Homo sapiens: one gene and its partners. The protein of the gene in region 1 interacts with the protein of each later gene in a pairwise test. Each region holds a gene or a part of one and is shown on either strand. Other genes may lie near its edges. The genes, in order: CIP2A, NEK2, SMC5, CEP152, CSPP1, CENPC and RBM5.

Region 1 (3,500 bases):
CCAGAATGTGGAGTTTTGTCTGTATCTTAAGTGCCTAGCACATTATCTGGCATGCTCTACTCCATTTCACTGACTGAATCCAATATGCCTCTATTGTCCATTCAATGGCCTACTAAACTTGGTAGATGGCATCTATTGCAATGGAGAGACAATGTAACTATCCCCAGTAGTCAGGCAACAAATTATATAAATCTTTTTAATATCTTTACTTATTACACTGAAATGAGCACTATATATATATATACATACACACTACTCAGTGAAAAAAAAGGAAAACACTAATATATATGACTGGCAGAAAAAAACCTAGCGAGTCTAGTATGACTGTTAGTAATTGAGATGTTTTCCTCAAGTGTATGAACTGTAAGTTTACAAAGAATGTTTTTGAAGACAAATTGTTAACTGAGAGTCACAAAAGTAGAAAAGTCAATCTGTCAGTCATCCTATTACCTCAAATATTTCCTTGAACAACTCCAATGCTAAAACAGAACAGTTTTCTGATCCGTCCAAAGGTTGGCTTAACCAGCGCAGTAGAGCCACAGTAGGTTCTAAACATTTAGTATGGCTTCCCAGAGTGGCGCTGCCAGGTGGAGACTGTTCAAACATCATCTGAGTGAGCATATGGCGCAGCTGAGTCACTGAACAGAAGGCAAGAAGTAATTCTAAAACCTGTGCAATATAAAGTGTTCATTAAACATCAATTTCACAGAACTTTAATATACAAAGCAAGTGTATGATGAAGCTGAAAATGCTACATATTTTAAAGAAAATATTCTAAAACAAAACTTAAGTTTTTTCTTTCAATATTATTTTTCAAATGTGTGAATAGGTTCTAGAAGATTATAAAATAAACTTATTAATGGTGGTTACTCCTGATAAGCAGGACTGTGAGAACCTCAGAGGGAAGGTCAACTTCAGCCAACGTTAAACTCCTCCCACTCCTTCCATAGTACTTAAATTATTTTTAAACAGAAACCTGTTTTGTTTATAAATGACCAAAAAAACCCTAAAAAATAAAATTAGAATTAGTAATACTTGTTATAATCCTAAAATTCAATAACCGCTATAAAGGATACTGTAGCATAGAATATAAAACCTTCAGGATGGTTATTTCCACACTGTTTGCATACGGTTGGCATTATGACCCTTAGCTCTCCTACTGTACCCCATTTTTCCTCTACTTTATAAACTGGGCCTTATACCATAACATCCCCCATCAACCAGTTTATTAGATGTTAAGATAAATTCCACCTCATTTCACATACTACCAACTTATCACTAAAAAAAAAAAAATTTCTTAAGATCTCCTTGTCTCTCTATTTCCAACTTTTTAAAAGTCTGTTTCTTACAAATGATATATAATTGGGATTTGTGTTTTAATCAACTTGATAGTATCTGAATTTAAAAGAATCCAGTCCATTAGCATTTACTATAACAAATGATAATCTTTAATAAACTGTAGTACAGTCATGTGTCACTTAGTGATGCATATGTTGCTTAATGCATCATTAATTCCGTTGTGTGAACATCGTAAGAGTGTACTTACACAAACCTAGATGGTAGAGCCTACTACGTCCCTTTATTGCCCGTGGGCTACAAAACTGTACAGAATATTACTGTACTAAATACTGTAGGCAACTATAACACAATTGTAAGTACTTGTGTATCTAAACATAGAAAAATACAGTATAAAAGATCAAAAACGGTACACCTGTATAGGACACTTACCATAAACAAAACATGCAGGACTGGAAGTTGCTCTGGGTGAGTTAATGACTGAGTAGTGAGTGAATGTAAAGGCCTAGGACATTACTGTATATTGCTGTATATTTCATAAAGACTGTATGCTTAAGCTACACTATTTTTTAAAATTTCTCTAATAAATTAACCTTAGCTTAGCAGAACTTTTTAACTTTATAAACCTATCCATTTTTAAAGTTTTTGACTCTTTTGTAGTAAGAGAAACACACTGTACAGCTATACAAAAATACTTTATTTACATCTGTAGTCTATCAGTTTTTTCTATTTTTAAAATGTAGGCTTTTTCTTTTTAAACTTTTTTTGTTAAAAACAAAGACACAAACACAGACATTAGCCCAGGTCTACACAGGGCCAGGGTAATCAACACCACTTCCACCTCCACATGTTGTCCCACTGGAAGGTCTTCAGGGGCAGTAACACACAGGGAGCTGTCATCTCTAATAACAACAATACCTTCTTCTGGAATACCTCCTGAAAGACCTGCCTGGCTGTTTTACAGTTAACTTTTTTATAAGTAGAAGTACACTCTAAAATAACAAAGAATAAGTGGTAACACGTTTATCAAAATACTATGTACTGTATACAATCTTAATATGTGTTATAGTTTTATACAGCTGGCAGCTCAGTAGGTTTGTTTACACCAGCATCACCACAAACACATGTGATGCATTGCACCACCATGTTAGAATGGCCATAATGTCATAGGCAATAAGAAGTCTGTGTCTGTCATTGACTAAAATGTCATTATGTAATGCATGACTATATTTATTTTTGAATAGGTAATACATTCACATGGTTCAAAAGACAAACCCTGTAGGCAAGCAATGTTACCAATTGTTTGTGTATCTTACCATATGTCCGTTATAAACATAGAAGCAGATAGCTTTCCATGTACATTAGTTTTCTTTTAATGTACACATATAAAAGTAAAAAAACTAATTACTAGTGCAGAGCTAGATGACTTTCCCAAAATGAACATATTCCACTGTTAATGGCATTTGGGTTATCATTGTTAGCTATTAGGAGCAGTACTACATTTTGTACACATGTAAACAATTCTTTGGGATAAATACCTATAAGTGAGATTTCTGGGTCGTAGTTTATACATATGCCCAGTATTAATAGATACCAGTTTTCATAATTGGTTGTTCTGTAAGTACTAAATGAGAGTTAAAGTATGTTTGCTATTTTCCTTATTTTTCATTTTAATCAACTGGTGGGTGTCAGATGGTATGATACTACCATTTAAATCTGCATTTCCCTTAAGATTGATAAAGTGGTAAATCACTTCATGTTTATTGACCAATTCAACTTTTTTGCTCAAGTATCTGTTCGGCTCTGTGTTTTTTCGGATATATACATACAATGTAGAAAAATAATATATTTTGGATAAGAGTCCTTTGTTAGATATATGCATTGTAAATATCTATTCCCATTCTTTGACTTTTCATTCTTTTATTAGTGGTCTTTTCATAAATAGAAACTTAATTTTAATGTAGCCCAACTTATCGACTTTCTTACTGTATAGTTAGTGCTTTTGTTTCCTGTTTAAGAAAATCATTGTCTACCCCAAGGCCATGAAGATACTCTTTAGGTGTTTTTTCTAAAACGTTCCTTATTTTTACTCTTCACATTTAAATCTACAACCTGTCTTATACTGATTTTTGCATTTGGTATGAGGAAGGGGGTCAAATTTCAGTTTTTCCCCATATGTATATTCAATTGACCCAGCGTCATTT
Region 2 (3,500 bases), on another chromosome or scaffold:
TTTCTTCTCTTGCTTTGAGAGCTCGCTCTCGCTCCTGTAACTGAATTTCCTTCAGTTTCAGCTCACTCAATACAGGGCTGGAATCCTGCGATTTTTCTGGCTCTCCTAATTGTCGCCCTCTTCTCTCAAGATTTCTTCTTTGCTCGTCTGCAACCAAATCTGCTATTAAAGGGTTCTCAAGAATTTCTTCAACAGAAGGTCGATGGTAATCCTGGGGAAAAAATACTCAGTATTATAGTCAGATTGCATAACAGAATAGTCCTCCTAAGACAGCAGTTAAAATAAAAGGACAAAAATGTGTTTCCAAGACAAAAGAAAGGACTCCTTTATGGCTAGGTCTTAAAAACTTGGAAAAATAAGTTCACTGGTGGTTTTAACTCATGAGGTTCTGGGTCCACAAGGTAATGCAGATGTTAACTTACCTTTTTTCCCTTTTCCCCTTTTCACCTTTCTAAGAAGGTTCAATCCCTGAAGATTGGCACATCTTGTGCTGGGGCTTGGTAGCATTGCTAGGGTCTGTTTTAGGGGAAGTACTGCCCTTGCATTTCTAAACTACATTTAGCAAGATACTCTCTCACTGACTCTCAATCCTGTCACTTCATCTGTATCCTTCTCTGTGATCCTACGGCATTTTCCTTCTTCTCTTATGTCAGCCTGGTCCCCAGAACATCTCCTTCCCCATTCTATAGCCAGAGTTTTTCCACATAATCTCTTTATTGATTTTCCCTCTGTTTTTAGCTGTCCTCCGTCCGCCCTCCATCACCCCTCCCCTTCTTCTGGTCTTTAATCTCTCAATTAGAGCTAGAGGCAGAGTAATAAACTCTTATTTCTGGCCCCTTCCCTCACTACCTGCCACTGTGAGGTAGGCAAGGACAAGGGGAACGAGAATTTGAATTCTTTTTGCAATCTTTCCTTGCTACCGACCATCTGTTAGCATGACAGAGTGGGAGGAGAAATAAAGAAAGCGCAGAAGGTGGGCCAGCAAGGATGTGCAATTTGCCAAATTTACATATGTTTTCACTTGTGTTAACACAGTAAATTTAGCTAAGAAAGTATATTTAACGTTTCTTCAGTCTCCATTGATCTACAAGAGAGAATGTATGCTCTGACACTTAACTGACAGCTAGAAACAGACAATATATCATCTTATCATCTTTACCTTTAAGTTTAACATCCTCGTAATAATTTCATTCAATTCATCAGAGTAACGGTATGGAATTCGCCTGAATTTGCCTTCTCTGATTTTCCCAGCGAGTTCTTTCTGGCTAAAAGCTGTAAATGGAGGCCTAGGGTTAAAAAAGAAGAAGAAGACGACGAAGACATTTTCAAATTGTAAAAATGAAAATATACAATAGGAACTAAATCAAAAGCACAGCTTAAGCTCCAGTTTGTATTTAAGTTTCTACTTCTGGGATTTTCTTCTTATAAGTAAGTTTCCCAACCTTGGCACTATTGACATTTGAGGTCATATAATTCTTTGTTGTGGGGGGCTGTCCTGTGCATTATAGGTATTTTGTAGCCTCCCTGCCCTCTACCCTCTAGATGCCAGAAGCACTCCCCAGCTGTGATAACTAAAAATTTATCCAAACATCATCAAATGCCCCATAAGAGGCAAATTTGCTTCCCTTATCCCTAGTTGAGAATCACTGCTCTACAGAATAGTTTCAAAGGGAAAGAAAATGAAAAGAAGAACAAAGGAAAAGAATTGGAGCTCTTCCCTGCTCTACAGATCCCCAGACCTCTACCCGAGTCTTGTTTCATTTCTTCCACATCCTTACAGTAGCTTTACCTTACCTGCCTGACCTATGTGCTCTCCCTTGAGCTAAGTGTCAATCTAATAAGAAAGCACCTAACCAGCCAAGACCCTTGAACAGTCAAGACCCAGCCTCATGGCTTATAGTTTTAATTTGTGAATAGTTTCTTTTAGCCTGTTCATCTATCTACCTTAATTTTACCCAGGGTACAATTCTTTCAGACTTGAATATACTTTCGTTAGCACAGAGGCTCAAAAAACTGAACCCAGTGAAATGTGACAAACAGTACAAACCTTAGACTAGGAATCTGTCTTCATCATACTTACATTAATGCACATAACTCATACAGCAAGCAGCCCAATGACCAGATATCTGATTTCTCATTGTAGGACATGCGATTCATTTGTTCCTATACAGGGAAAAAGGGTAAGAAAGTGGAAGGTGTTAAGAGTTTATTTTGTTTTGAAACTTAAAAAACACATTAAATTACTCCTGAGATAAAAACAGAACCTCAAAGTTTTTAGCTTATACTTTATCTTGAAATTTATAATGGAAAAAAGGCAATGATCTTGTTCCAATACACTCCATCATACATAATTCATTCACTCATTTTCCATTCACAAATGAAAGTGCTTAGTATAGACTAGGCACTGACAATACAGAGGTGAATATGAGAGACTTCTACTCTCAAGGCAAATTAAGAAACACCATTTTAAAAGAACTAGAGGAAATTTAAGAATAGTCAAAATATGTATCTAGTCCACATTTAAATGGATATAGACATAAATAGCTAATTGAATTATCCATTTATATTTTGTCTTAGTCCACTCCATAAATCACAGTAGTAACTAATATTATCCTTACCTATTTTATTGTTTGCCTTTCTTCCACATCTACAGTAACAACAGCCTACCAGAGCTCCTATTCTCAACAGAGGGAATAGAAGCAATCTCTAGTGGCTGGTTAGTGTTTTAAAGTCCAACTGGTGAGTCTGATGCCACTTTTTGACAATCAGTGCCTTAGGAAAGCTGAACCACTCTAATTACAAGGGCAGGAGGGAAAAGGAACAAAAGAATAGGTTTCAAATTTCCCAAGAACCACTTCTGGATAATTGTCCTTTATGTTAAAAACATTCTATTTGGAATTTGATACAGTGAGAAAATGGTACTGTTCTGGCTATTTTTAGTCAAAACCAAAATCATTAATTTACAAAGTTTTATACTATAGTAAGATCTGTTAACATAATTTATAAATATTTGGAAAATCCTAGAAAGGTGAACTACTAAAATACTAACAAATATTTCTTCATCTTTATCTGTTCAGATGTTATATACTAACACATTAGTGCTATCACAATTGACTTAAACTTTTTAAAAGCCATCAGACAATATCTAATAACAGCCATAAACATTTACCCCAGCAATTTCATTTTATGAGCTACACTCCAAGGAAATAACCAAAAAGGAAGAAAGAATAATTCATACAAAGATATGCAGAGCAGTACTTCTAAGAATGGTGAAACATGTTGGAAACAAAATATCCAGCAATAGAGGTAATTGGTGAGTGGACTCAGCAAGATATTTCAGGGATAGGCAACAAAAAAATAAAATGTACAAAAAGTTAACATTGTAAAAACATGCTATCTGAAGTGAGCAAACTTCCTGAGCTCTGATTCTGCATACACAAGAATCATTTACAGAGCCTCTTAAATGCAAAGTCTAAAATAAAAAGTAAAATATTAAAAAA
Region 3 (3,500 bases), on another chromosome or scaffold:
TATAAATGTTGCCAAAACTGAGGATGCTCTAAGGTTTACTATTCTTATTGATGGCACTTCTATGTCAGGTTCAGATTTACCTTAAAAATGAGATACATAACTTACTAATTAGGCCGGGTGTGGTGGCTCATGCCTGTAATCCCAGCAATTTGGGAGGCCGAGGGGGGTGGATCACTTCAGGTCAGGAGTTTGAGACCAGCCTGGCCAACATGGGGAAATCCCATCTCTACTAAAAATACAAAAATTAGCCGGGCATGGTGGCAGGCATCTGTAATCCCAGCTACTTGGGAGTCTGAAGCCGAAGAATAGCTTGAACTCAGGAGGTGGAGGTTGCAGTGAGCCAAGATTGCGCCACTGCGCTCCAGCCTGGGTGAGAGTGAGACTTTGTCTCAAAAAACCAAAACGAAAAACATGAAACTTACTAATTAAAGGTTATCTATTAATTGAATAGAGCTTTAAGGTCTAAGATAGTACTGAGCAAGAGAAAGATATAATACAACCCACATATGTAATTTTCAATTTTCTAGTAGTTACTTTTTTTTTGAGACAGAGTCTCTGTCCCACTCTGTTGCCCGGGCTGGTCTCAAACTCCTGAATTCAAGTGATCCTCCTGCCTTGGCCTCCCAAAGTGGGATTAGGCATAAGCCACAGCACCTGGCCTTTGCCTGTCTTAAAGAAAAATTAATTTTAGCCCAAATTGCAATGCATAAACTTACAGCACAAGAAATTAGTAGCAAATTTCCCACTATTTCCATTCTTATAAATTCTTAAATTCTTTTTTTTTTTTGAGACAAGGTCTGGTTTTGTTGCCCAGGCTGGAGTGCAGTGGCACCATTTTGGCTCACTGGAACCTCCACCTTCCAGGCTCAAGTCATCCTTGCACCTCAGCCTCCAGAGTAGCTGGGACCACAGGTACATACCACCGCACCCAGCTAATTTTTGTATTTTTACAGAGATGCGATTTTGCCATGTTGCCCAGGCTGGTCTCAAACCCGTGAGCTCAAGCTATCTGCCTGCCTCAGCCTCACAAAGTGCTGAGATTACAGGCGTGAGCCACCACACCTGACCATGAATTCTTAAATTCTTTATTAAAAAAAAAAAGACACTGATATACACTATATTTCAAACTAATCTGTTTGAGTCTTCTAACTCCAGCTGTGGTAGCTTTATAACGTATTTATTCAATACAACTGAATAACCATTACTCAGATGTATAAAAAGAGTTACAAGGTATTAGTCACTAATTCCAAACATAACCCCCCCCAAAAAAAGTGACCCTAATGGAATCCCACAGGTGGTTTTCTCCTTTCTTTCAACATTTTGGTAAACAAAACTTTTCACAGATATAACTCAAAAGTAAATAAATAATTTATATGTACTTTAAGCATATAATTAAAATTATTTGCCAGAAATATTATTTATTTCAAATGCAATTTTACCTCATTTTCTGTATGGAGATCAACTTCACCAGCACACTGCATGGAACTAAAAAAATTGCTGAATTTTTCATTAATTTTTTCTACCAGCTCTTTTAAAGGATTAAGCCACCTTTCTTTTACCTACAAATAAAGGCAATATAAAAACACAATTTAAAAGCAGTATTACTATATTCTGACACACAATTTTATGTAAATTTTATATCAGTATCAGTCTGGGCATAACACACTTCTCTTAGAAGCATGTCATCTCATTTTCCATTATTCTACATTCCCATTTCATTAATAATCACATGATAAAAAGATTAAAAACTAAAAAATTACCTGTGAAATGTTTTCCCTGTATTGATCTAGTTCAACTTTCTTTCCCTTTAGTTCCTCAGTTAACTGTTCTATTTCTTCTTCTCTTTTTGTATATTCCTGAACAATCTGGCAGGGGAAAAAAAAACTTCTTTAAGATAAATCTACCAAAGGATAAAACTATATACAATTTTGCATTGATTAAAACATTAAATGAAAATGCCAATTGTGCTGCATTGTTTGTATGCAAATAATATATGCTCTTATTACATACTGAAAGTGACATTTTTTATCCTTGAAAAAATAGACATTGCAGTATTTCAGGTTAGCCCAACTATTCTTTTTATAAAGAAAAGGCACAGAACATTGTGTTCCTTAGGAAGAATCTATTTAAAATTCTAATAGATTCAGAATCTGGCATTTAAAGTACATTGTTCCTGCTGTCTAGCTTATTATTACCAAGAGCTCTAGTACAGAGTGGGAGGCAAGTACTGGAGGGAACTCTGTGTGTGTATGTGTGTGTATGGGGAGGGTGGTGGTGGTGGTTGGATGCAGAATGGGAATAGAGAAACAGGCATACTGTAGGATTCAGTCCCGTGAAGCAGGAAGCTCTTGATCTTTCTTCAGTTAATAAAGCATCAATTTCATCCAATGTGTTTGGAAGGTCTTGGAAAACCTAAGAAAAAAATTGCCCGTCATTATAGATACAATGAAAACAGTTCCATTCAAATAGTTAAAAGAAAAATAATCTGCTGAATAAGTTATCTATCTGTTCAACAGCATGCTGGCACACAAGAATACAAAGGAATAATAAACAGGGTCATTTGCCTTCAAAAGCTTGTACTTTAAAGAAAACAAAATGTATGTACTGGATAACACTTTAAGGCAATGTATTGATGTTGAGTATTAAAACAAGCAGTACATATCATATAGGCTAGGAATTTAGAGAAAAGAAGTATCAGTTCATGCTACAGGAGAGTTAAGAGAATTCAAAGGCCTAGAATTCATCTCCGGGCCTTAAAGCAAATGGCTAGGGAGGAGCAAGGCAGAGGGAAAACAGGAGCTTGGGAAAAAAGAATGAGTACTGCATACCATGGGGAGTGAGGAGTTGTGTCCATTTGGAATGGTGGGTACTTGCTGAATTGGTAGAATGGGTCCAGAATATGTGGGGCATTGAAAGAGAGCAAGAAGTTAGAACTTTATACTGCACTTATGAAGAACTAAAAAAGCATCCTGAGAATCTAATTACTTTGACAGTTGAATTTCACCACAGTACTATCTTCTGAGTCCATGCCATGGGGACAAATTAGAACATATACTTTTTTTTTTGAGGGGAGGCAATCAGTACATTGTTTGGCCTAGCACAACCTGCAAAGGCTATATACTACATGGTACAAAATGAATCCTGAAACCCTGAAAAAGATCTTGACATATTAATCTAATATCTTAAACTTATTATTTTAACCTCTTAGAAAGCAGTTCAACCTCTATAGACCTTCAAATATTCCTCTGTTGAATCTCTGACTTACTGAGATGTAAGCTCATGTGTCCAACATTTATTTACTCGATATCCTCACTTGACTCTAATAGGCATCTTAAATTTAAGATGGTGAAACAGAATCTGGATTTCACCCACCTTCCCTATCACTTTAAGCAACCCTGTTTCTCCTTCAATCTTCTCCATTCCAGTAAATGGCATCGTAATTTGTTCAGGTGAAAAATTTAGGGGTTCTCTCTCTCATCCTTCATGTCAAATCCATCAGC
Region 4 (3,500 bases), on another chromosome or scaffold:
GATTTCAGGGAATAAAAACATGACTTCTCCATTAAAACTCTCATGATTCTCCTTGTAACAAGAATCAGTTGTGAATGAAGGGAAAACCATAAATAGAAGAAGAGGGCCTAAATTAACCCTCTTATCTAAATACAAAATGAAATCTAGGAAGAGGGGACATTAAGTCAGACGATTATTACCCATTTGTTCACATCTATGATCTCCTTTTATCCTCAAAGCAACCCTTCAGATGGGTGATTATGGATGCTACAAAGACTGGTGGGAACAAAATCCAATTACCAGCTTCTGCTTCTGTTGCTTGTAAGGCCAAGGGCTGAGCATGGTGTCCAGCAGCAGGTCCAGGGTCTCCTTGGCCAGTGCCCTGGCTGGCAGAATCCTTAGAGAGCTCGGCCATATTTCTCTGAAATAAAGTATCTTCAAAGTTAATGCTTAGTAAAAATCTTTATACAATTTTATATTTAAAATGCTAATATTAAAAATACAAAGAGAAAACACTACCTGAAAAAAATCTTGCCTGAACTATCTATCGCCAATATTTTTCTTAGGGTGTTATATAAGTACTGTCACTGTACTAGGAACTAGCTTCCTATGAAACTTTCCAAATAAGAACACTGTCTGACAGGCGACTGGTGGGCAGCTATGAGACAGACAGAAGATATGGTTTGCACATTATATATGTGAATTTGAGATTTTTCAATGGTTTACGTGATTAAACCACATGAAAGACAATATAAAATCAGAATTGTTCTTGAAAATCTAGAACATTTTTACTACAGCAAGGAACAAGTTAATTAGCAAGTATAATGCTAACCCTCTGCCTCCTATGAATTGAAAATAACAGTTAAAAATCATTTTAAATTTATATAGTACTTCATATGCTTCTAAATACTTTAACATACACAGTAATTTTGTAAGGAAGGCCAGCTGAATGCCAAAGTTAAGGACAGAAACTGAGGCTTAGCTAAATTAAACATCTTGCACAAGACCATTTCTTCACTAATATTTATTGAACGTTTTTATGTTCCAGTCCTTGTCACAGCAATACAGCTACTAAATCAATGGATTTTTCATTTTTGGTTTTTGTTTTGAGATGGAGTCCTCCTCTATCGGCCAGGCTGAAGGGCATTGGCGCGATCTCAGCTCACTGCAACCTCCACCTCCCAGTTCAAGCGATTCTCCTGCCTCAACCCTCGTGATCCGCCTGCTTTGGCCTCCCAAAGTACTGGGATTACAGGTGTGAGCCACCACGCTCAGCCAAATCAATGGATTTTTATGGTAATGTTTTCAGATTTAAGATGACTACTAAATCGGAAAGGAACAGAATAGGTGGTATGGAGAAAGTAGTCTTACTGATTATTTAAAACATACTATATATGCCTGATTCTAGAAGCCTTGATTTTGATTATGAGAAACCACTTAATTGACTGTCAGAAAACCTACTTACAATGTCCAACAGAAGCAGAGGTTAGCAATTATAGAGAAGAGGCAATCAAGAAGCTATGGGTTTGAGGTCAAAAGGAGTAGGAAAAGCTGAACCAAAATGCAGTCAGTGCTTCCAGTTTTTACTCAAAACTGGGGAAGAAAAGTCAAGATAACAGAAAAGGGAGAAAAGCAACAACCTTTTTGTCTCAGTTTTAACTTGACTTTGATGGTAAAAGAGACAACATACATCCTTAAGTTTGCTTGAAAATTTTGTTCCATTTGATATTTGTTTTATCTGTTATGAACTACTGTATTAATATATTTTGATATGGCATTCATTTTCTTGAAAGCTATATTTTTCATTCATTGCATCCTCTCCATTTAAAAAAACTTTTGATTGTCTCAGTTATTTTAATGAGGACTTGTTTTTATATATTAATAAACCATCTTTTGTTTTAATTTCCATGAACAATTTTTAAAACTAGAGAGTTAATAAATTATAAATTATAGTTCCTCACATTTACAGCACCTATGTAACAAATTTAAAATCACTGCTCTATAATCATAGCTTTACCTCAAGGTCCTGAGTGAAGATAGCTCGAAAATGGCAGAAGGTCAAGTATTACTTCTATGACAAATTCCAGATTAGGCATTTCAAAGCCATCCTTTTCTCAGGAATGGAATCTGACCCACCCAACAAAAGCCGTAAACATCTAAATTCTTAGCCAGATTATGTGATTCTGTCTCCATAGACTTATGAGCCTCATTAAGTCACACAGATGATCTTATACTGCTTGCACAATTATAAGCCCTGTAAAAAGACTCCAGGGTTGATTTTATATGTATATATTAATGGTAGGAGAAAGGTGTCATAGTTTCTTGATTTTTATAACAGATTTTATAACTGTTATAAAAATCGAAACATGCTTACAAACGAAAGCATGTAAACATGATTTTCCCATCATTTCTCATCTCCAAATCTGCTATAATTTTTTAATTATATGTTTTCTCCAAGTTATTTTAATTATTTTCTCCAAAAAATCTCAATTAAGTGTGAAGCAGTATTCATGGGAAGTGATCTTGCCCAGTAAATTTTACATTGAAGGCAACTACTCGGTAGCAACATCTTTGTGAGGTCAAGGATAAAAATATCAACTGGGGTGAAGTAGGATGGAGTGAGCTGATCTTTCAGGTCCCTTCTGGCTCTAAAATTCTATACTGTTTCAAATGCAGGACCCAGAAAGGCTAAGCTGTGCCATGCATATCCTACCCAAACCCAAGGAATTAGGCCGGGGATTTGTATTTTATTTTTCCAGTGAGCAACTATGTGATTGCCCAATATAATAATCTAGTTATCATCGAATATGGAACTGAAACTCAAGGTTATTTTTTCTAGTTTATAACTCTCCCAAGTAGGTATTAATACCAAATGCTCAATCCTGGCCTTGAAACTCCTTAATCACAATATTTTGATGGAACTTCACTCTTAAGTCTCAACTCTATTAGACAAACCTTATAATACTGGCTTTTTTTTTTTTCCTGCCTCTAATCCCAAATGTTGAAATTGGCTAATCACCATGCTCAGAATATCATTCTGGATCTTTCATGCATACCTAATTGCTTTGATCATAAGGTAGCAAGAATTTGGTTTTACTGAAACTTTCATACAAATTAAAAGCTGGTCTCAGAGAGTACTTATATAACTAAAAGAATATAATTAATTCTATATGCACATATATAGTACATCCAGAAACTGGGCTTCAGAGTTTTATGCGAGTGAGTCGTATTTATTTGCTTGTTTCTATATCAATACCTTTGTACTTGGTTGGCATTTTTTTGCCTAAATGAGACATAAATTTATTGAGGGCAATAAATAGGCTTCCAAACTCTTTACAAGCTTTTAAGAAACTCTTATTATGCATATTTCATGAAGTGGTCAGGCCCAGAAAACAGAATTTTGAAAAAAAAATTTTCAGTTTCTGAAATCTCAGGCCCTTAGAAAGAACAGCATATATTCTTTATTTTATTTTAAGTTCTGGGATACATGTGCTGAACGTGAAGGTTTACTACATAGGTAT
Region 5 (3,500 bases), on another chromosome or scaffold:
GTCAACTGAAGGAGGTCTTTGGAGTTTGCTTGCAATTTTGTTCTGAAGAGCAGGAACTATAGGAGAAGGCTGTCTCATGTGCTGAAAAATTTAAAAAATTTAAGAGCATATTTGCTTCATCACACTCACACACATATATACACACACACACACCCCTTATAGTTAAGAAAGTCATCTAAGAAGTTTAGATTGTTATTGCTTTTATTTAATAAAATGCTTTCTACAAAAGTCAGAAATTCAATTACATAAGATCAAACATGTTGGTTATGATAAACATAAATGGATTTAGACATCTTTATTAAAACAGTATGACTGTCAGATTAGGATTTAAAAAATCAACAAACACAAGTAAAGCAACAAAAAAGAAAAAATATAACAAAACTAAAGAATCATCTTTAATAATAAAAAGGTACCATGACAATACAAAAAAATTAAATAACAAAATCCTTCTGGAAAGCAATACAAATCAACCTCGAAAATCTAGATCTAATCACTAACAGCATCATGGATGAGGGACTTTTCAAGATCACGATGGGGTTCTATATTTCAGTTTATAGTGTATTAAACCTTATAGTCCAAAAACTTCATTGTAAATACAACATAGACATTCTAAATCCCTGTAGAGGATGGAGCAAACAAGCCATAGTACACATAACAAAAGACCAAAAAGCTATCAAGGAAGAAAAACACAAAAAAGTCAGAAATGCAATTAATGCAAAGACATTAGTTTTGATAAACATAAATGGATTTAGATATCCCTATTTTAAAAGATTAGGCCAGGTGCAGTGGCTCATGTCTATAATCCCAGCACTTTGGGAGGCCAAGCAGGCAGGTCACCTGAGGACAGGAGTTCAAGACCAGCCTGGCCAACATGGTGAAACCCCGTCTCTAATAAAAATTAGCCAGGTGTGGTAGTTTGCACCTGTAATTCCAGCTACTGGGGAGGCTAGGGCAGGAGAATCACTTGAACCTGGGAGGCGGAAGTTGCAGTGAGCCGAGATTGCACCACTGCACTCCAGCCTGGGCAACAAAGCGAGTCTCTATTTCTAAATAAATAAATAAATAAATAAAAATAAAAAGATTATAACTCAGATTAGGATTTTAAAAATTCAACAAACTAAAGATAGAAGCTAACTAAATAAAAAATATGGTGACACAAAGGTAAAACTGAAGGAATAGACAAAAATATATATATATATCAGACATACATAAATGAAAGAAAATGATAGCAATGTTAATTTCAGAAAGGCAAATGCATTAAATGGGATAAAGCTGATTTAAAACTTTATGGTACTTTACAATTAAATTATAATATCATAAAAGTATATATTCCTTAAAAAATAGCATTTTTAAAAAACATAAGAAATTACAAGAAATATAATTATGGGAAACTAACAATTCTGTTTAATTCTTTTTTTTTTTTTTTTGAGATGGAGTCTCGCTCTGTCACCCAGGCTGGAGTGCCACAGTGCAGTCACGGCTCACTGCAACCTCCGCCTCCCAAGTTCAGGCGATTCTCTTGCCTCAGCCTCCTGAGTAGCTGGGACTACAGGTGCCTGCCACCACGCCCAGCTAATTTTTGTATTTGTTATAGAGACGGGGTTTCACCATGTTGCCCAGGCTGGTCTCGATCTCCTGGCCTCAAGTGATCCGCCTGCCTCGACCTTAAATTCTTAAATGATGAATTTTACAATAAAAAATTATCTGTGAGGCAGGGTGTGGTGGCTCACACCTGCAATCCCACCACTTTGGGAGGCTGAGGCAGGAGGATAACTTGAGCCCAAAAATTTGAGATCAGCCTGGGCAACATAGCAAGACCTGGTCTCTTAAAACAAAAAGAAAGAAAAAGAAAAAGAAAAAGAAAAGAAAAGAAAAGAAAAGAAAAGAAAAGAAAAGAAAAGAAAAGAAAAGAAAAGAAAAGAAAAGAAAAGAAAGAAGGAAGGAAGGAAGGAAGGAAGGAAGGAAAGGAAAGAAAGAAAGAAAGAAAGAAAGAAAGAAAGAAAGAAAGAAAGAAAGAAAGAAAGAAAGAAAGAAAGAAAAAGAAAGAAAGAAAGAAAGAAAGAGAGAGAAGGCCGGGCGTGGTGGCTCACTCCTGTAATCTCAGCACTCTGGGAGGCAGAGGTGGGTGGATCATCTGAGGTCAGGAGTTTGAGACCAGTCTGGCCAACATGGTGAAACCCCGTCTCTGCTAAAAATACAAAAATTAGCTGGGCATGATGGCGTGTGCCTGTAGTCCCAGCTACTTGAGAGGCTGAGGCAGGAGAACTGCTTGAACCCAGGAAGTGGAGGTGCAGTGAGCCAAAATTGTGCCACTGCACTCCAGAGCCTGGGCAACAGAGCGAGATTATGTCTCAAAAAAAAAAAAAAAAAAAAAAAAAAAAAGAATACATATATATATATATATAAACCACTCTCACTTTCTGTATTAGTCTTGTCATGAACCATAACAAACAGTTCATGTTGTACTGTCTGCAGACCATATTCTTGGGTGGCACCGCATACACCATGGGAATGAGACTAAGAATGGCTCAAGTAAGTAAATCCATTACCTTCAATGGACAGAAAATACCAACAAAGCACAGTGACAGTACCTCCTACAGAAAGTTCAGTACATTGTGCCCAGACTAAACAGTAAGACAGAACAGGAACAAAAGCACCTCCTCCTCTTTCTCCCCTTTTCTAACAACTGTACAACTCTCACAGTGAAAGTGAGTTAAACTATGGGTTTGATTGACATTTTTGTCTGAAACTTACCTTTGTTTCTTCCCCAATCAAATTGTCTCTTTCACAGTAGTGCTGAAGTTGCAGGTTATATTTTTCTTCTTCTTCTTTCTTCTTTCTTTCTGCTTCTTTTTGTCTTTCTTCAGCTAACCGAATATGCTCTTCATTTTTTAGCCTTTGCTTTAAAATAAAAAGAGAAATATGCATTCCATATATTCCTTCTATAGTACATTCAAAAATGTGCTGCCTTATTTATCTGATAAAATGAGATAAAGATATAGATGACATGATATGGTGTTCTTTAACATAAGTTGTCTGCTTAAAAATAAAATATTAGGCATCTTTTATAAAGTCTTCAGTCAGCCTACATCTATATTTTTAAAGTCATCACTTATCTCCTTTCTTAAATTACCCTTTCACCTTAATAAAATAATATCCAAAGAATGTATATTGATCTGATATTTTCTAAATGTACTCCAACACTGTTCTCCTTTATAAGTAAGAAATACCTTTTCAAGTCAAAGATTTCACCTTCAGACTAAGTAGTAAAATACAATAGGGAAAAAAGATGTACCTCCTCCTCTTTCTCTCTTTTCTTTTCCTGTTCCTCTTCATACTCCTGCTGAATTCGTGCCCTCTGTTCTGCAAGCCGTCTTTCTTCTTTTTCTTCTGCAATTCTCAGTCTCTCTCGCTCTGCTTCCTCTCTTTGTTTCTTTTCCTCAATCTAAAGAATTAAACTTAGTTATTTATCTTGTAAAACTATTGAAAAGTTAGAATAT
Region 6 (3,500 bases), on another chromosome or scaffold:
GACATTTATACTTAGACGTTTGTCATAGAAAACTGGTGATGAATTAGTCACAGGTGCACAGAAAGTCAAAAATGGAAAAACCAAAATTAAATCAAGAGAAAATTAAGAACTGTACATAAAGAAAATTTAACCATTAGTACTCTACATAGCTGTGACTACTGAAACAGTCATAATAATACCATAAACACTAACTACTAATCCTACTAAAAATTATGATGTACTAAAGAATGGAAGTTTATGTGTTGTGGTCGGAAGTAGAAACTATATGACAAATAAAGTCTAAACTTCCATAGTAGAAAGCCAATAAATAATAGCAAAGACTGGGAAAAAAAATCAAGAAACAGCAATATAAACATTATTTAGAAATATGGAGTCAAAATACCTAGAGTAATAGCTAAGACTAAAAAGTTGGACTTGGAGGAGGAAAAGTGGGGTCTACTATTTTTTTGTGGAATTTATGGAACTACTTTAACTTCCATGTACATAATGCCTTTGAGCTTTAAAAATCAATCTTCCAACAAATTAAGAAGAAAAGTATGTAAAAAGATAGGGAAGAGAATAAAATAGTGAACCAGAATAGACTGCTGATTCTTTGAAAATGTTAATGACAGAAAAATACCTGTAACAACACAGATAATTTAAAAAGGTGAAAACCAGCAATAAAAAGAGAGTAATAACTATGAGGAAGATCATGAAGTTGACTATACACAAATTGAGAACAGAGGAAATGTTTCAAGAAAATTATAAAATGTCAAAACTGGCAAAAGAAATATAAAAAATGCAATAGATCATTGAATAAAGTGGTAATCACACACATCCCCACCAAAACAGCTCCAACCATATGTTTTACAAATGATCCAAATTTGAAGAAACAGATCATTTTTGCTTAATCAAGTTATCCCAGAAAACAGAAGAGAAAAACTAATTTATTTCATGAAGCTCGGTTGTGTTTCAGTTAAAACCTACGGAGTCATATCTTATTTTACTTAAAGACAAACAAATATGAAGTAATAACTAGACCTAGGAATCTCAAGTTCGCAAACAGAAAAGCCTATAAGATAGATAAGTCTTAAGTCTGATTTTATTTTCAAATCAAGTAAACAAATTTCATTCCTTATGTGGAAGGCCTAGGCCAAGCTTGCTGCATGGAAAGGCCCTACCTGAAAAAAAAACCCTAACACCTACAAAGTCTCTGTTGTTTTGAAGCATCCATCTCAAGGATTAGAAAAAATTAATAATATAAAAATAAAAATAAAGAATATATGAAAAATAAAATTAAGAAAAAAATAATGAAACTAAAAACAAGCAAATGAGAGGACCGACAAAGCCAAACTTGGTTTTCTGAAAGACCAAAATTGATAAACCCTGACAAAATTAATCGATGAAAAAGACAAGGCATAGCAGGCACAGTGGCATGTGACTTACGAGCAGTAATCCCAGCTATTCCTTAGCTTAGGGAGGATCACTTAAGCCCAGGAGTTCTAATCCAGCTTGGGCAACATACCAAGATCCCTACCTCTAATTAAAAAAAAAAAAAAAAAAGATAAGGCATAAATAACCAATGTCAGGAATAAAAAAGGGGATATAACTGTAGATCCTACAGACATTAACAAGACTGGAAAAAGACATGACAAAACAACATTATCCAAATAAACTGGAAAATTTAAATAAAATGAACAAATCCCTAAAAAAAGAAAAGTAGAACATTTAAAAAAAATAGAAAATCTAAATTGTCTACTGAAACTATTAAGTAAAATCTAAATCTTTAATGTTCTATATCATCATCTAGGTAGTAGTTGTAAAAATTCAATGAAATATACACGCAATTTGTGTATTTTAATGTATTATGTTTCATAAGAAAACAAAAGTGAGGCCAGGCACAGTGCTCATGCCTGTAATCCCAATGCTTTGGGAAGCTGAGGCAGGAGGATTGCTTGAGCCCAGAAGTTTGAGACAAGCCTAGGCAACACAGTGAGACCCTGCCTCTGTAAAGAAAAATTTTAAAATGGCCGGGTGCGGTGGCTCACACCTGTAATCCCAGCACTGTGGGAGGCCAATGCAGGAGTATCACTTGAGGTCAGGAGTTTAAGACCAGCCTGGCCAACATGGTTAAACCCCATCTCTACTAAAAATACAAATATTAGCCAGGTGTGGAGATGGGCGCCTGTAACCCCAGCTACTTGGGGGACTGAGGCAGGAGAATCATTTGTACCCCGGAGGCAGAGGTTGCAGTGAGCCAAGATAGCACCACTACACTCCAGCATGGGTGACAGAGCAAGACTTTGTCTCAAGACAGATAGATAGATAGAGAAATAATAAATAAATAAATAAGCAGGCCAGCATGGTGATATGCACCTATAGTCCTAGGTAGTCAGCAGGCTGAGACGGAAGGGTTTGAGCCCAGGAAAAGTTCAAGGCTTCAGAGAGCTGTGATCATGTCATGGCACTCCATCCTGGGCTAAAGAGTGAAACCCTGTCTCAGAAAATAAATAAATAAATAAATAAATTAGTATTTTAAAATTCTCGCAAAGAGAAAACTCCTATGAATTCCATCAAATATTTGAGAAAGAAACAATAGTGGTTCATAAAAACACTTCAGGAGAAAAGAGACAGAGAAAATACTGAACAACTCATTTTACAAGACCAGTACAAACACAGAGTAGAACCTTTATTTTGAACATTTCTTATTTATTATACATTTAAAGTTATGAATTCCCTCTAACACTATTTTAGCTAAATCTCACAAGTTCTGATAAGTCATATTATTATCTTCATTCAGAATATTTTATATTCCCAACATGCTTTCTTCTTTGGCCTAAAGTCATTTAGAAGTCATTGCAGTGGACCTTGGCTTTAGAGCACAATGTCTTAAAAGGGACCAGATTTACCCTCCTGCCTGAATCAATTTTAAAAAAAGAAAAAACATACAAGATTCTCAAGAAATACGACATTGAAAAACCAAAGAGAATGATTCTTGAGATGGGAAACAAATGAGGTGAACCCTCTGATCACCCATTTCCAGATGTGACACACAGGGGAAATCCTCAGTTGAGGAGCCAAAGCTGAGGATTCAGGAAGACCAAAGTGGTTAGAATTTGCAGGATAAAGTACTGGACAGGAGACGGTTACATAGAGAAAACTGCAGAATGTGCAGATCTCTCTCAAGCATTCAATCAAATATTGATCAGAGAATGCGTTGTAAGAAAACCAGAGAAAGAACCACCCGAAGCCTTGAGGGGGAATATCCTCCCAGTTACAAAGGACCTAGAATAATCTACCAGCCAGAGTGGAAAACCTCCATAAGTAACGGGACACAGTAGAGAAGAATTTTGCCTCAGAAGGGAAGAAAATTAGCCACAGACTATATTTTGCTAGTCTTTATTGTTTCCACAGCTTCTCATATATCTAAAATTTGTTTCCATTTTTTAAAATAGCTGCTTTAGCAGGAGTGTTAGCCTTCTGTGACTTACTGCATTCTACCTAGAAGAGGAACCTCTAGC
Region 7 (3,500 bases), about 58 Mb from region 1:
CTCCATCCTTTAGTCTAATCTCCCTGTCCTTTGTTCTGCAGGATAGTACAGTGGCTCAAGCCTATAATCCTAGCGCTTTGGGAAGATGAGGCAAGATGAGCGCTTGAGCACAGGAGTGTGAGACCAGCCTGGGGAACACAGTAAGACCCCATCTGTATACAAAAATTTTAAAAATTAGGCCTCGCATAGTGGCTCACGCCTGTAATTCCAGCACTTTGGGGGGCCAAGGCAGGTGGATCACGAGGTCAAGAGATGGAGACCATCCTGGCTAACACAGTGAAATCCCGTCTCTACTAAAAATACAAAAAATCAGCCAGACGTGGTGGCACGTGCCTGTAGTCCTAGCTACTTGGGAGGCTGAGGCAAGAGAATCGCTTGACCCCGGGAGGCGGAGGTTGCAGTGAGCCGAGATCGCGCCACTGCACTCCAGCCTGGGCAAGAGTGAGACTCCGTCTCAAAAAAAAATAATAAAATAAAATAAAAATTACCCAAGCATGATGGTATACACCTGTAGTCCTAGTTACCTGGGAGGCTGAGGTGGGAGGACTGTTTAAGCCCAGGAGTTCGAGGTTACAATGGGCTATTGCACCACTGCACTCCAGCCTGGGTGACAAAGTGCAACCCTATCTTTAAAAAAATAAAAAAATAAAAATAAGGACTCAGATGAGATTTAAAAGAGGCAGTGGATGCGTCACTGTGCCCTGAAGTACGCCTAATCAAGAATAGCCTTCCTGCTCTTTGAGGCCTACTCTCAAAATAAGGAAAAAAATCAACAGCCAAAAAATGAAGAGCCTGATGATAAACTTTTTTTTAAATTTTTTTGAGATGGAGTCTCACTCTGTTGCCCAGGCTGGAGAGCAATGGCATGATCTCGGCTCACTGCAACCTCCGCCTCCTGGGTTCAAGCAATTCTGCCTCAGCCTCAAGAGTAGCTGGGACTACAGGCGCATGTCGCCACACCCAGCTAATATTTTATATTTTAGTAGAGAGGGGTTTCACCATGTTGCCCAGGCTGGTCTCCATCTCTTGGGCTCAGGTAATCCACCCACCTTGGCCTCCCAAAGTGCTGGGATTACAGGCGTGAGCCACCGCACCAGGCCAGGTAAACATTTTTAATGGATCATACTTTTCTTACAGTTAAATTATTGGTAAAAATTTTCAAAGTTCATCACATTCTTAGGCTCCTAATAAATCAAACATTAATTGGGGCTAGAATAAAGTATTCTGGCTGGTAGGCTTGTTCCAATGTCAGACCAACTCCTTTTTCCAAAAGGCCACAAAAATATACTAGTCTCTTCATCAATAATATCAGGCATGAATACTACCATGAAAAAAAAAACAGGGTGAAATTTGTGGAAACAAGATTCTCACTGGCCTCTACTTTCCATAACTAGGTGCAACGGCTGCAAGACTACACACAGCCAATCCTCATTATCCTCAGGTATCACACCTGTGAATTCAACCACTCATTAAAATTTCTAACACTCAAATCAATACTTGTAGCAGTTTCTTTTTTTTTTTTTTTGAGACAGTCTTGCTCTGTCGCCCAGGCTGGAGTGCAATGGCACGATCTCGGCTCACTGCAAGCTCCGCCTCTCAGATTCATGCCATTCTCCTGCCTCAGCCTCCTGAGTAACTGGGACTACAGGCGCCCGCCACCACGGCTGGCTAATTTTTTTGTAGTTTTAGTAGAGACAGGGTTTCACCGTGCTAGCCAGGATGGTCTCGATCTCCTGACCTTGTGATCCGCCTGCCTCAGAATCCTAAAGTGCTGGGATTACAGGCGTGAGCCACCGCACCTGGCCAACCCTCAGTAATATTCTTTTAGGCTTAGCTAGACTTTTGAGAACTCTAGCCCCTAGCCACAATAGCACTTTGCCACTCATCCCTCTCCTGCCAAAAGCCTCTGACTCCAGCCAAATCAAGCCGATTGCTAGGCCTTATCTAGATTCAGTACCTTTCTATTCCCTGCTCATGTGATACCCCTCCGCCTGAAGGGCCCATCTACCACACCATTCCCTTAGTTTTCCACGCCTATAATCCTAGCACTTTGGGAGACCCAGGCGGGAGGATTGATTGAAGACAAGAGTTCAAGACCAGTCTAGGCAATAAAGAGAGACCTTGTCTCTACAAAAAAAAAAACAAACGATAAAAAAAAAAATTAGCTCGGAGTGGTGACACATGCCTGTAATCCCAGCTACTTGGGAGGCTGAGGCTGGTGGATTGCCTGAGCCCCAAAAGTTGGAGGCTGCTGTGAGCCACAATCACGCGATTGCACTCCAGCCTATGCGACAGAGTAAGGCCCTGTCTCACAAAAATAAAAATAGAAGATTCCTTACCCTCCACTAGTAACAATTTCCTTTAAATAACCTTCAAGAGCTCTTAGGCAGACCTCTTTCAATAGGACCTTTTCCGACATGACCCTCTTTTTGAGACAGGGTCTTGCTCTGTCGCTCAGGCTGGAGTGCAGTGGCGTGAACACAACTCACTGTACCCTTGACCTCCTAGGCTCAAGTGATCTTCCTGCCTCAGTCTCCCAAGTAACTGGGACCACAGACAAGCGCCATTAAGACTGGCTATTTTTTTTTTTTTTTGGAGAGATGCGTCTTACCATGTTGTCCAGGTTGGACTTGAACTCCTGGGCTCAAGCACTCTTTTCACCTTGGCCTCCCGAAGTGCTGGGATTACAGGCATGAGTTACCATACTCGGCCTCTGACCCCTTTCTATTCTGCATTGTCACCATTATCTGCTGACCTTAGCTACTCATCCATAAGCTTTTTTGAGGCAAGATCCATAGCTCTGTGTCACTGTAGCATCTAACATGTACAGTGTAGCAGATGTGCAGTGGATCACAAATAATGGAATGATTACCCACTATTAACTCTAATATCCTGTCTCACATTTGTCACATTCATTACTTCCAGGGTTTAGAAACCCAAAGCTACGGGAATCCAATGCTTATTTTGAGCTTTATCCAAAATTCAACTAAACATTAGTCAGAATATTACTTTGATTACTCCAAGAAAACAAATACTGGCACACTGCTGTTTTAAAACCTCACATTCATTTTTACCAAGAGCACTGGCTGAGTAACATACTGTGTTCAAGGGTTGGGGACACAGAGGTGACTAGTTCACACAGAGGCCTATTTTCAGAGATCTTGTGGTAGAGATGAGACATGTGTGTTGATGGCTACAGTAAAGGTGCTACACAAAAGTCATGAATACAGTGCCTTAGGAAGAGAATAACGAAGAAGAAGCTCTGCCCGATAGATCAGGCTTTACATACAGGCGTCTCCAAGCAGAAAAAGGCACAACAGTAGAGCAATGGACATGTCCAAAGTCCAGGATGTGGAAAGTAGGGTGTGGCTGGAAGGAAGGGTGAGGACCAGAGATGCTGCTGGAAATCAGGCAGTGCCAAGTACACTAAGACTCTAATTGGCCAGTCTGAATGAGCCGTCCTTTTTAACAAGCTTTTCTGAGGTTTCAAATGGGTAGTT

Evidence for each region.
Region 2: the proteins of CIP2A (region 1) and NEK2 interact in a two-hybrid assay, tested with the Homo sapiens proteins (one large-scale study listed by BioGRID).
Region 3: the proteins of CIP2A (region 1) and SMC5 interact in a two-hybrid assay, tested with the Homo sapiens proteins (one large-scale study listed by BioGRID).
Region 4: the proteins of CIP2A (region 1) and CEP152 interact in a two-hybrid assay, tested with the Homo sapiens proteins (one large-scale study listed by BioGRID).
Region 5: the proteins of CIP2A (region 1) and CSPP1 interact in a two-hybrid assay, tested with the Homo sapiens proteins (one large-scale study listed by BioGRID).
Region 6: the proteins of CIP2A (region 1) and CENPC interact in a two-hybrid assay, tested with the Homo sapiens proteins (one large-scale study listed by BioGRID).
Region 7: the proteins of CIP2A (region 1) and RBM5 interact in a two-hybrid assay, tested with the Homo sapiens proteins (one large-scale study listed by BioGRID).

Annotation. Positions count from the first base shown.
Region 1 is NC_000003.12:108,568,939-108,572,438, forward strand, and holds part of CIP2A (protein CIP2A), read right to left. Parts: intron 670-3,500; coding exon 451-669; intron 1-450.
Region 2 is NC_000001.11:211,669,122-211,672,621, forward strand, and holds part of NEK2 (serine/threonine-protein kinase Nek2), read right to left. Parts: intron 2,164-3,500; coding exon 2,081-2,163; intron 1,287-2,080; coding exon 1,160-1,286; intron 212-1,159; coding exon 1-211. UniProt on the Homo sapiens protein: Protein kinase which is involved in the control of centrosome separation and bipolar spindle formation in mitotic cells and chromatin condensation in meiotic cells.
Region 3 is NC_000009.12:70,345,978-70,349,477, reverse strand, and holds part of SMC5 (structural maintenance of chromosomes protein 5), read right to left. Parts: intron 2,900-3,500; coding exon of another isoform or gene 2,874-2,899; coding exon 2,829-2,873; intron 2,413-2,828; coding exon 2,317-2,412; intron 1,866-2,316; coding exon 1,761-1,865; exon of another isoform or gene 1,757-1,760; intron 1,560-1,756; coding exon 1,440-1,559; intron 1-1,439. UniProt on the Homo sapiens protein: Core component of the SMC5-SMC6 complex, a complex involved in repair of DNA double-strand breaks by homologous recombination.
Region 4 is NC_000015.10:48,752,070-48,755,569, forward strand, and holds part of CEP152 (centrosomal protein of 152 kDa), read right to left. Parts: intron 401-3,500; coding exon 280-400; intron 1-279. UniProt on the Homo sapiens protein: Necessary for centrosome duplication; the function also seems to involve CEP63, CDK5RAP2 and WDR62 through a stepwise assembled complex at the centrosome that recruits CDK2 required for centriole duplication.
Region 5 is NC_000008.11:67,158,392-67,161,891, reverse strand, and holds part of CSPP1 (centrosome and spindle pole-associated protein 1), read right to left. Parts: intron 3,446-3,500; coding exon 3,296-3,445; intron 2,902-3,295; coding exon 2,755-2,901; intron 82-2,754; coding exon 1-81. UniProt on the Homo sapiens protein: May play a role in cell-cycle-dependent microtubule organization.
Region 6 is NC_000004.12:67,535,504-67,539,003, forward strand, and holds part of CENPC (centromere protein C), read right to left. Parts: intron 1-3,500. UniProt on the Homo sapiens protein: Component of the CENPA-NAC (nucleosome-associated) complex, a complex that plays a central role in assembly of kinetochore proteins, mitotic progression and chromosome segregation.
Region 7 is NC_000003.12:50,095,419-50,098,918, reverse strand, and holds part of RBM5 (RNA-binding protein 5), read right to left. Parts: intron 1-3,500. UniProt on the Homo sapiens protein: Component of the spliceosome A complex. Binds to ssRNA containing the consensus sequence 5'-AGGUAA-3'. Regulates alternative splicing of a number of mRNAs.